Regions from separate parts of the Homo sapiens genome. Here region 2 is linked to region 1. Evidence: fine-mapped expression QTL. Tissue or cell type: testis. Region 1 holds a variant in brackets; the other region holds the start of a gene. All regions are shown on one strand. Distances are from middle to middle.

Evidence for each region. PIP is the estimated chance that this variant, and not a neighbour inherited with it, causes the effect.
Region 2: it holds the start of ADRA2B, and the variant in region 1 is fine-mapped to the expression of ADRA2B in testis (GTEx, PIP above 0.99). The same link has a PIP of 0.9 or more in hippocampus.

Annotation. Positions count from the first base shown.
Region 1 is chr2:96,079,352-96,084,720 of GRCh38, reverse strand. No RefSeq gene overlaps it. Among named protein-coding and RNA genes, the nearest start is that of ADRA2B, 35 kb to the left of the region's middle. The variant T/C (reference allele first, on the strand shown) is at 2,415.
Region 2 is chr2:96,113,731-96,119,099 of GRCh38, reverse strand. It overlaps ADRA2B (adrenoceptor alpha 2B), which reads left to right and starts at 2,529. Exons shown (of 1, transcript NM_000682.7): 1 at 2,529-5,369. The coding sequence starts at 2,951. The coding sequence ends at 4,303. RefSeq lists silencers at 1,700-1,769, 1,810-2,269, 2,280-2,439, 2,540-2,629.

The DNA of each region.
Region 1 (5,369 bases):
GGATTAGCCAAAGCAGTGCAGGTGGCCCCGGCTGCCAGGGAGGGAGGCCCTGGGCCTGGAGGAGGTGCCCACTCTCCACGACCGCCTGGAGGGGCCTGCTGGCCAGAGGCTGCCCCTACCACTTCTCAGGCTCACACCGTGGTCTGTTCATTTGTTCATTTGTTTGTTCAGACATGGTAGACGCCCCCTGGCATATTCAGGCTGGTGGAAAGGGCGCCACTGTGACAGTGCAAAGCATGAGGCTTGCTGAGAGGATCTATCAAACCCAGCCAGAGGGCATCCAGGGTGGTCTACAAAACCCACAGCACAGGACAAAGGCAGACACACACACACGGTGAGAACTCTCACAAGCAAGAAGCAAGGGCGGGATGATGGGGTGGAACCCAGGGGGTGTCCTGCACTTTCAGGAGAGATGGCTGCTTGAGGGTGGCTACAGGGTACCCGGTCAGGGACGTGATGTGTGATTCATGCGGTCAAGCCAGAGCTGGACTCAGAAACAGCGCAGACAACCCGGGGGCAGAGGGCATTTCTCCCTTACCCCGTGGCTGGGACTTGGTGAGCAATATCCCAACAGCGCCTGCACCTGCTGCAGCATCCCTGGGTATCAGGGCAGCTTCCTCTCCTGGAATCTAGATATGATGGCCATGAGCCCCAAATCCTATGGCTCCTGGGAGCGAGGCCCTTCTGGAGGCCTTTGTGACTGCTGGGTTAGAACTCGTGCTCATCCATTATCCCCGGTTTTGGCTACTAGACAGTTTTGAGGATGCACGTGTATTCAAGGACATCCATGGGAAGAGAGATGAAGAGAAAATGAACATAAATTATGTTAGTGGCCCCTCATGGGGCCTGGAGGTCAGTGTGGGTGGTGACAGGCATGCGCCTAACTCAGGCACTAAGGAAGGAAGAGGGAGGAAGTGGGGAATGGCTCTGAGGCTAGAGAGGGAGGGTGAGCCTCTCTCCCTAGGGTCTTGCAGGGATTGGGGGTGGCAGGAGCCCAGATGGGGCAGCAGTGTCCAGGGGTCAGGATTTGAATGTGCATGGCCTCTGACTATGCACTCCTGGGGTAGGGCAGGGCCTGGGAGGGCTTGGCAGACGTGGCCTTCTGCATGCCTCTCTGCTGAGGTTGGGGCACGAGGCTAGGCCAGCCAGAATTTTTGGGCCACCTCTGGCTGAGCACAGAAGGCAGCTGTCCCCAGTGGAGGGGTGGGGGCCTTGGCCCTTGGAAGCAGGTCATGGGATGTGGATGCTTAGATATGTGCGGACGTGAGCAGCTCTGCAGTCCTTGGCCCCTGGCTGGCCAGCCCCGGCGCCAGGCCTGACTTCCCCTCCTCCTGACACTGCCAGGCTGGAGGCCAGTGGCTGACCGAGCAGGCTCTGCCTTGGGCTGAGCTGGAGTAGGGAGGGTCTGCAGGACTAAGGAAAAGTCCACTGCTAAAGCTATGGCAGCCTCCATCTCATCAGCCTCCTAATTAAAGTGACACTGCACAGTGCCTGCCAAATTCATTGGATGTTGACCCCAGGATGTGGTGGCCCTCCCAGGACTAGGGGAAGAGGCAGGTGGGCTTCCTGGCCACCTAAGGCAGCCTGAGAGCTGCCCATGAGTGGGGTGGGAGGGAGGGCAGCTGTGTAAGCTACACTGGGCTCGGAGAGACAGGAGATGTGAGTCCCTGTCCCTGCCTGTTCCTTATAAGTGGTGTGGTCTTGGGCAAGCAGCTTCCCTCCTCTCTAAGGAAGTTATGAGGTCAGTTACACTCTTGGGAGTGGAGAAGCTTCCTTTGTAAACTGTGAAGTGCTGCCAGAATGGGAGGTGGAGAGGAGAGCTGGCCTTCCAATCGATGACCTGATGACCTCAGCTGGCCAAGCAAAGAGGTCCTGGGGGACAGGCAGGTGTCTTGGCCCTCTCTCCATTTTGTCCCCTTGCAGACTAGCCGTGGGCTGGGGTAAGTATGAGTCCAAGACTGGACCCCGGCCTGGCCAGGACACAGGCTTGGAGCCTTGCATTTTGCAGGCTGGAAGGACATCCTTGAGAGAAGAGCTATTACCAAGGCGGGATGGATCTGATAGCTTTGTGAAGTGATCAGCAAAGAGTGAGCACCCAGGCTGTCCAAACCTCAGGCCTTGGAAGAAGTGTGGCACTCGCAGGACTGCCTGCTCATGGCAAGGCACCAAGGTACGACCTTGTGTGGGTCACGGGAGCCGCACAAGCCAATACTCTTACCTTTTGCCTGGAAAGGCCTGGAGATGCAGGCCCACCTGGGCCACCTGAGTTACGCACAAGTGTGTTAGTTCAGCACCTCCTCCCCTGCAGATAGACCTCTTGCCCAGGATCACAGGGATGGTCAGTAATAGCCCGAGCCAGGACTCCAGGGCTTAGGGCCTGGGCAGCTGCCGGAGGTGGGGGGTTGTCTACCTTG[T/C]GGCCCCTCCCAGAAAACATGCTTGTAATTTGGAACTCTGGTTGTGCAGCCGCCCCGTTGGCAGCTTGAGAGGAGCACGTGTTGGTGAGAAGGAACATGGCATCCTCTGCCTTGCTCTGGTCTGGCCTCTCATCCTGCGATGCAGGGGCTCCATCCACAACTCTCTGTGAAGAAGAAATACAGACTTTCTCAGACAAACGAAAATTGAGGAAATTTATTGTCAGTACACGTGCCTTGTAAGAAATATTGAAAGTTCTTCAAAGAAAAAGAAAAACATGTAAGTCAGAAACTTGGATCTATATAAAGAAAGAGAGCACTGAAGAAGGAATGAGGGAGGATAAAATAGAAAGTGTTTTTTTTTTATTCTGAATTGATCTAACAGGTAACAGTTTGTTCAAAATAATAATAGCAACAATATATTCAATTATTTAATCGTATATGTATATTATACACATAGAAACATATACTTAAGTATGCTTATGTATGAGTAAAATAAATGAGAGCAGACATAAGAGGCAGGAGGCAGGAATTGGGATTATTTTGTTATTATAAGATACTTGGTACAACCCATGAAGTAGTATTTGGTATTTGAAGATGGATTTGCATTAGTTGTAGACGTATACTGCAAATCTAGGGAAAATACTGAAACAAGTGAAAAAAATAAGAAGAAAAGTATTTTTTTTAAAAAGGAAGTTGTCTTAGTGCGCTTGGGCTGCTATAACAAAATACCTCAGACTGCATAATTTATAAATAATACAAATTTATTTTTCATAGTTCTGGAGGCTGGGAAGTCTAAGATCAAGGGAAGAGCAGATTTGGTGTCTGATAAGGGCTCACTCTCTGCTTCCAAGGTGGTACCTTCCTGCTGTGTCCTTGCGTGGTGGAAAAGATGAATAGCCCCCTCTCACCTATTTTGTTAAAGCACTAATCCATTATTGAGGGCTCCACCCTCATGACTTAATCACCTCCTAAGGGCCTCATTTCTTATCATATTGGTGGTTACATTTCAACATATGAATTTTGGGGGAACATATTCAGACCATAGCAGAAATATGCTGACTATTTATTTTTTGGTCATATAAAATGCTCAATTAAAAACCACAAAAGGCAGAAAAAGAGTGGGAGGAAAAATAGAGGAACAAATAACAAGGCAACAAATAGAAAAACAGTAACGGGTATGGTAGATATTAATCTATGTCAATAATAATTTTGAATGCCAATGGTGTAAATATACTAAGACAGAGATTCTGCAAAGCAAAAGAAACTATCAACAGGGTAAACAGACAACCCATAGAATGAAAGAAAATGTTTACAGCCTATGCATCTAACAAAAATCTAATGTCTTGAATCTATATGGAACTTAAACCCACAAGCAAAAAACAAACAACCCCATTAAAAAATGGGCAAAGAACATGAACAGACACTTCTCACTTGATCTTAGCCAAAAGGCCGAGAAGCGATGAACAGACACTTCTCAAAAGACATCTGCACTGGCAACAAGCATAGAAAAAATACTCAATATCGATAATCAAATCAAAACCACAATGAGATACCATCTCATACCACTCAGAATGGCTATTATTAAAAAGTCAAAAAATAACAGATGCTGGAGAGGTTGTGGAGGAAAGAGAATGCTTATACACTGCTGGTCAGAACATAAATTAGTTCAGCCACTGTGGAAAGTAGTCTGGAGATTTATCAAAGAACTTAAAACAGAACTACCATTCAACCCAGCAATTCCATTCCTGGGTGTATACCCAAGGTTATGTAAACCATTCTACTGTAAAGACACATGCAGGCATATGTTCATCGCAGCACTATTCACAATAGCAAAGACATGGAATCAACCTAGATGCCCATCAATGATAGACTATATATACACTATGGAATACCACAGAGCCATATAAAAGAATGTAATCAATGTCCTTTGCAGCAACATGGATAGAGCTGGAGGCCATCATCTTAAGTGAATTAACACAGAAACAGAAAACCAAATACTGCATGTTCTCACTTATCAATGGGAGCTAAACACTGAGTATACACAGACACATAGAAGGGAACAACAGACATCCGGGGGCTACTTAAGGGTGGAGGCTGGGAGGAGGGTGAAGATTGAAAAACTACCTATTGGGTAATCTGCTTATTACCTGGGTGACAAAATGTCCTGTACACCAAACTCCCATGACATGAATTTACCCATGTAATAATAAACCTTCACATGTACCCGTTGAACCTAATATAAAAGGTGGAAAGAAAAATAAAATAAAAGAGATTATCAGAGTAGATTAAAAAAACCAGACCCAGCTATATGTAGTCTACAAGAAACCCATTCTAAATATAAAGATGCATCTAGATTAAAATTAAAGTGATGGAGAAAGATACACCATACAAATATTTAACTAAAACACCCCCCAGAATATCTGTATTAATTCAGGCAGAGCAGACTTAAAGAGCAAGGAAAGTTACCAGAGATAAAGAGGGGCATTACATAAGAAAAAGGAGTCAGTTCTCCAAGAAGACATAACAATCCTGAATGTGTGTATGCACCTAACAACAGAGCATAGAAATATGTAAGGGAAAAATTGACAGAACTGCAAGGAGAAACAGATGAATCCACTACTAAAGCTGAAGACTTCAACACTCGTTGATCAGAAATCGGCAGACGGAACAAGCAGAAAATCAGTAAGAACACAGTTGAACTCAACAACACCAGCAATCAACTGGATAAAATGGACATCTATAGACTACTTCATCCAACAACAGAAAATTACACATTCTTCTCAAGCTCACATGGAACATTCACCAAGATACCACATTTTAGGCCATGAAACACACCTTAATAAATTTAAAGAATATACATCATATACTATCTGCTGTCAGACCACAACAGAATTAAACCTCAAATCAATAAAAGGAAGATAGCTGGAAGCCATCAAAATATCTGGAGATTGAACA
Region 2 (5,369 bases), 34 kb before region 1:
TGGGAAGAGCTGAAGGAAGCCTTGCTATGCTAGTAGGCTCCAATTCCTGCACCTGGCAGCCTCATGGGGCTGGTTGGAGCAGGCAAGGCCTGAAGGTGTGTGTGTGCGGGGGGAGATGGTGAGCCGCCGAGAGGAGCAGGAGCTGAGTTATGTTATGGCCTGCGTGGCCGTGGAGAGCTGGCGCACCCACGCTGCACTTGTCCATCCTGGGGTGGAGCCAGGAGGAGACAGCTGCAGTAGACGGTGACAGCCTGGGGCAGCGGTATGGATGCCAAGGCAGCTCCTGCTGCCCGGAGGGCACACATCTCCCAGGTCTGCCAGCTGTAGACTCTGTCCCTGGCTGTCCCCACCTGGCCTAGTGCCTAGCTGGCCCAATGAAAGATGCCTAGCAAGGCTTGGCACTCAGTAGACCCAAAGTTGTCACTTCTAGGAAGGCCCAGGTAAGCGTCCTCAGTGGGGACTTGCAGGGTGGGGAGGGCACACGGGCAACCCAGTCTCAGCTCCTGCAGCATCCCTTGAAGGAAGATGGGTCAGAAGACAAAGGCTGATGCTGGCTGCAGAGTCTGGGGAGCTGCTCACTGGCCCCCAGCCCAAGTGTGGTTGGAGACAGTGGAAAGGCGGTTCCTCCCGATGCCCATGTGGGCCTCTAGCAGGCCCAGACTGTGAAGGCCTTGGGAGCCCCTGGATAGGCAGGCACCTGCCTAAGTAGCTGCTCCCAGGCTCTCATGGCCACCCTCTGTCCTTCCTCAGGGAAAGAGCTACTGGCATCTCTCCATCACTGGTTATGTATGCCCAGGCGGCGCCCAGGCCCTGCCCAGCCCAGAGGGTGGGAAAGACACATCCAGGAAACTGTGTCTAGCAGAGTGGTCGGTTTTGAGCTGAAGCCTAGGGTTGGGGGTGGGAAGGAGGCTGATTGCCCTGTCCGAACCCAGCCCTGGCAGCATCCACCCCATGGGCTGTGGGCACTTGCACCTCACCAGAAGCTGGGGAGTCTGGCAGAATGACAGGGATGGGGGGATCAAGGAGGCACCTACTCCCAACACACCCCCGTGGCTGGGGGTGCTGGTCTGGGTACCTGAGACGGGGCACCTCCCACCTGAGCCTGGGGAGGCGCTAGACATTGTCCGTGGGCACTGAGAGGCCACGTGCTCTGCTCCCATGGAGGGAGCAGGGAGGAGAGGAGGTCCAGCAGGTTGGACGGGGCCTGGGGGAGCCCCACTGTCAGAGGTGGATTGGTGCTTATTTATACAGAGGATGCCTTGCAGAGTCGTGGGCTGTGAATAAGAGGCCTGGCTCGAGGCGGGGCTTATGACATTAGGGGCTCCAGAACCGGGGAAACATGCCCTCAGGGCTGCCCAGGCTGGTGCTGGTGGCGGTGTGGCAGGGAGAGTGAGTTGGGGCCCTGAGGGAGAACAGTTGCTCATAGCGCTTTGAAGGCGAGTGGGGGGCCTTAGTCTGAAGTTTCTTTTTACCCCAACCCTCTTTCCACTGTCACCCCCAGAAGGGCTTCAGTGTGTATGTGGGGCAGGACCGCAGCAGGGAGGGAGGGTCAACCCCTTCCCCCGGGGTCACTACAGAAGCGGAGGGACGCTCCTCTCTTCACGGCTGCCCCTGAGACCTGCTTTTTCTCGGAGCTGTGTGACAAAGTCCCCACCCTTTACTCCCCCACGGCAAGGAAGGGACCTCCCCTTCGCATTAGTCAAGGGGCGGCAGCTCGCCCTGTGCCCCGTACAAACCCTTGGCTGAATCGCAGTTGATGCTGTGATTCGAGTCCAAGCCAGTTTCCCTGTTACCTCCTTTGCCCTTAATGGAGGAAACTGAGGCAGCTGCGGAGACACAAGAAGCCGAAGTCCTAAGACCCAGGCTGCGAGCGCTGGCTCCGGGACCCGGGCTGCCGCTGACGGGCTGGGCCCGCGGGCGGCAGCAGGGGGCGCTCGCAGGCCGGGACGCGCCCTCCTCGCGCGGCGCTGGCCCGACGGAGCTGGTCCGCGAGGGGCAGCGCCTGGGAAAGGGTCGGGACCGGCTCCCCGCTCCCCGCTCCCCCACCTCTCCGCAGGGCGTCTCCACGGCCGAGCCGGGCGGGGTTGTGGTGTATTGCGACCCGGCGCCCCAGCCCCACGCCCGCCCTGCCCTCCCTGCGGGCTCCCGAGCGGCGGAAGGCAGAGCAGGGCGCACCGGCGCCGGGCCCAGCCCGGTTCCCCCGGGAGAAGTGTCCCGTCCCGGTGCCGGCCCGCGCGCTAGCTCCGCGTCCCGGCTCCCGGCACCCACCGACCCCTCCACAGCTGCGCGCGTCCTGCCTGGGGGCCGGAGACCCCGGCCGCCGGGCCCCTCCGCTCTCCCGAGGCGCGGCCGCCGGGAGGAAGGCAGGTAGAGGCGCTGGGCGGGGTCCGGGCGCGGGAAGTCCCGGGCTCACGCCTCCCGCGAAGCGCACCTTCAGCCCACCTCGGTCCGCCCACCGCCCCGCCTCCCGCCCGCTCCCGCGCCCGCCTCCAGTCTCCGCCTTCCTCCAGCCGCTCTCCCCGCTCCCCACTCCCCTGCAGGCGCGGCTGGGGCGAAAGCCTGCGAGCTGAGCGGGCGCAAGGTCCTCCGCGCCTCCTTTAAGAACCGGCCCAGCCCGGCCCGCGCCCCCAGAGCGTACGGCATCCGCGTGGCGGGAGGGCGCGACTTTCTCCGGTCCCGGGCGGGACGGGGACGGCGGCGGGACAACTTGGGAAACTTCTCTGGGGCGGACGGCAGGGACCCCGGGCACCGGTGGAGGAGGATGTAGGAGGGCGGCTGCTGGTCCTGGGTGTTCCCGACCTCCTAGGCCCCGCTCGTCCAGGCCATGGGGCTCCAGCGCCCTCGGCGCCGCCCGAGGGGCGACGCTCTTGTCTAGCCGAGCCGGGCAGCGCTGTCGTCCACGGTGCGCACTGGGCGGGCAGCGCTCCCTCTGCCCACCTCCCGCCCCGTCATGGACCACCAGGACCCCTACTCCGTGCAGGCCACAGCGGCCATAGCGGCGGCCATCACCTTCCTCATTCTCTTTACCATCTTCGGCAACGCTCTGGTCATCCTGGCTGTGTTGACCAGCCGCTCGCTGCGCGCCCCTCAGAACCTGTTCCTGGTGTCGCTGGCCGCCGCCGACATCCTGGTGGCCACGCTCATCATCCCTTTCTCGCTGGCCAACGAGCTGCTGGGCTACTGGTACTTCCGGCGCACGTGGTGCGAGGTGTACCTGGCGCTCGACGTGCTCTTCTGCACCTCGTCCATCGTGCACCTGTGCGCCATCAGCCTGGACCGCTACTGGGCCGTGAGCCGCGCGCTGGAGTACAACTCCAAGCGCACCCCGCGCCGCATCAAGTGCATCATCCTCACTGTGTGGCTCATCGCCGCCGTCATCTCGCTGCCGCCCCTCATCTACAAGGGCGACCAGGGCCCCCAGCCGCGCGGGCGCCCCCAGTGCAAGCTCAACCAGGAGGCCTGGTACATCCTGGCCTCCAGCATCGGATCTTTCTTTGCTCCTTGCCTCATCATGATCCTTGTCTACCTGCGCATCTACCTGATCGCCAAACGCAGCAACCGCAGAGGTCCCAGGGCCAAGGGGGGGCCTGGGCAGGGTGAGTCCAAGCAGCCCCGACCCGACCATGGTGGGGCTTTGGCCTCAGCCAAACTGCCAGCCCTGGCCTCTGTGGCTTCTGCCAGAGAGGTCAACGGACACTCGAAGTCCACTGGGGAGAAGGAGGAGGGGGAGACCCCTGAAGATACTGGGACCCGGGCCTTGCCACCCAGTTGGGCTGCCCTTCCCAACTCAGGCCAGGGCCAGAAGGAGGGTGTTTGTGGGGCATCTCCAGAGGATGAAGCTGAAGAGGAGGAAGAGGAGGAGGAGGAGGAGGAAGAGTGTGAACCCCAGGCAGTGCCAGTGTCTCCGGCCTCAGCTTGCAGCCCCCCGCTGCAGCAGCCACAGGGCTCCCGGGTGCTGGCCACCCTACGTGGCCAGGTGCTCCTGGGCAGGGGCGTGGGTGCTATAGGTGGGCAGTGGTGGCGTCGACGGGCGCAGCTGACCCGGGAGAAGCGCTTCACCTTCGTGCTGGCTGTGGTCATTGGCGTTTTTGTGCTCTGCTGGTTCCCCTTCTTCTTCAGCTACAGCCTGGGAGCCATCTGCCCGAAGCACTGCAAGGTGCCCCATGGCCTCTTCCAGTTCTTCTTCTGGATCGGCTACTGCAACAGCTCACTGAACCCTGTTATCTACACCATCTTCAACCAGGACTTCCGCCGTGCCTTCCGGAGGATCCTGTGCCGCCCGTGGACCCAGACGGCCTGGTGAGCCCGCCTGCGCTGCCCCTGTGGGGTTGGTGCGGTGGCGCCGGGGTCACCCTGCTTCTTGCCCTGCTGTGTGTGGCTGCCTCCCCTGGGCTTTCTGCTCCCTGCCCAGATCCTGTAGGCCTCATCTTAGGAACCCCTTGGGAGGGGTGGGCAGGGGGGCTGCTAGCAAGGGTCCCAGTGAAGCTTCCCCTTGCCGGCTTAGCTGTGGGGGACCCCTTCTCCACCCTCTCCCTGAGCACAGGCCGATGGAGGTGGTTCAAATCCTCTGGAACATAGCCAAGACCAGGAGAAGAGAGAGCACTTTCTTCCCAGAGCCCCATGCTCTCCAGACCAATGTCTGGGCTTCCCTTTCTTGAGGACCTTGTGTTCCTGGCAGGTCACTTGCTTGTGGTGTTTTCGTTTCTTTTTCATCTCCCCCCCACCCACAAAGAGCACGGAGCCAGCCTTCCACTTTTCCCAGTGGGGCCTGCTGCTGAGGGGGAGGAAGAAACGAAGACTGATCACCCACGCTAGGCACTCGCGGTCCCTGGCAGGCGCTGGGATGGGGGCTTATGGGGTGGCATCGTCTCTGGGCCCTCCTTTCCCCCTTTGCCTGTTTTCGGATCTGTGGTTCCTTTGAAAGCCAGAACAATGGATCGGCTTCCTTACCCAGCACCCCTCCGGTAGGTGGGTGGCCACGTGGATGCCTCGCTGGGGCGGTCTTGGAGGCCTGGTCTCTGCCTCGACGGGAGATCCCCGATCACTGGCATTCACCCCCTGCAAAAATCGGGGCGACAATAGCTCACTGCCTACTTGCTGCAGGGAGATGAAAGGCTTTGCAGAAAGCTTTGAGCTCTGTGGGGGAACACACTAGAGAACCAAAAATGTGATTATATGGTGATATAAAAATCCCTTTCCTCTGTGTTTACCACCACCTGTCTTCCTGTAGACTTTTGTTCTGTCCCTGGGGTGTGTGAATTCCTACCCCGAACTGGAAGCCGGGAGTGGCAGACAGAATCACTATTTCAAGTTAAAGGATCTCTTTGAGAATGTGTTCTTCTGGCTGCAAAGGTCTGAGTTATTACGCT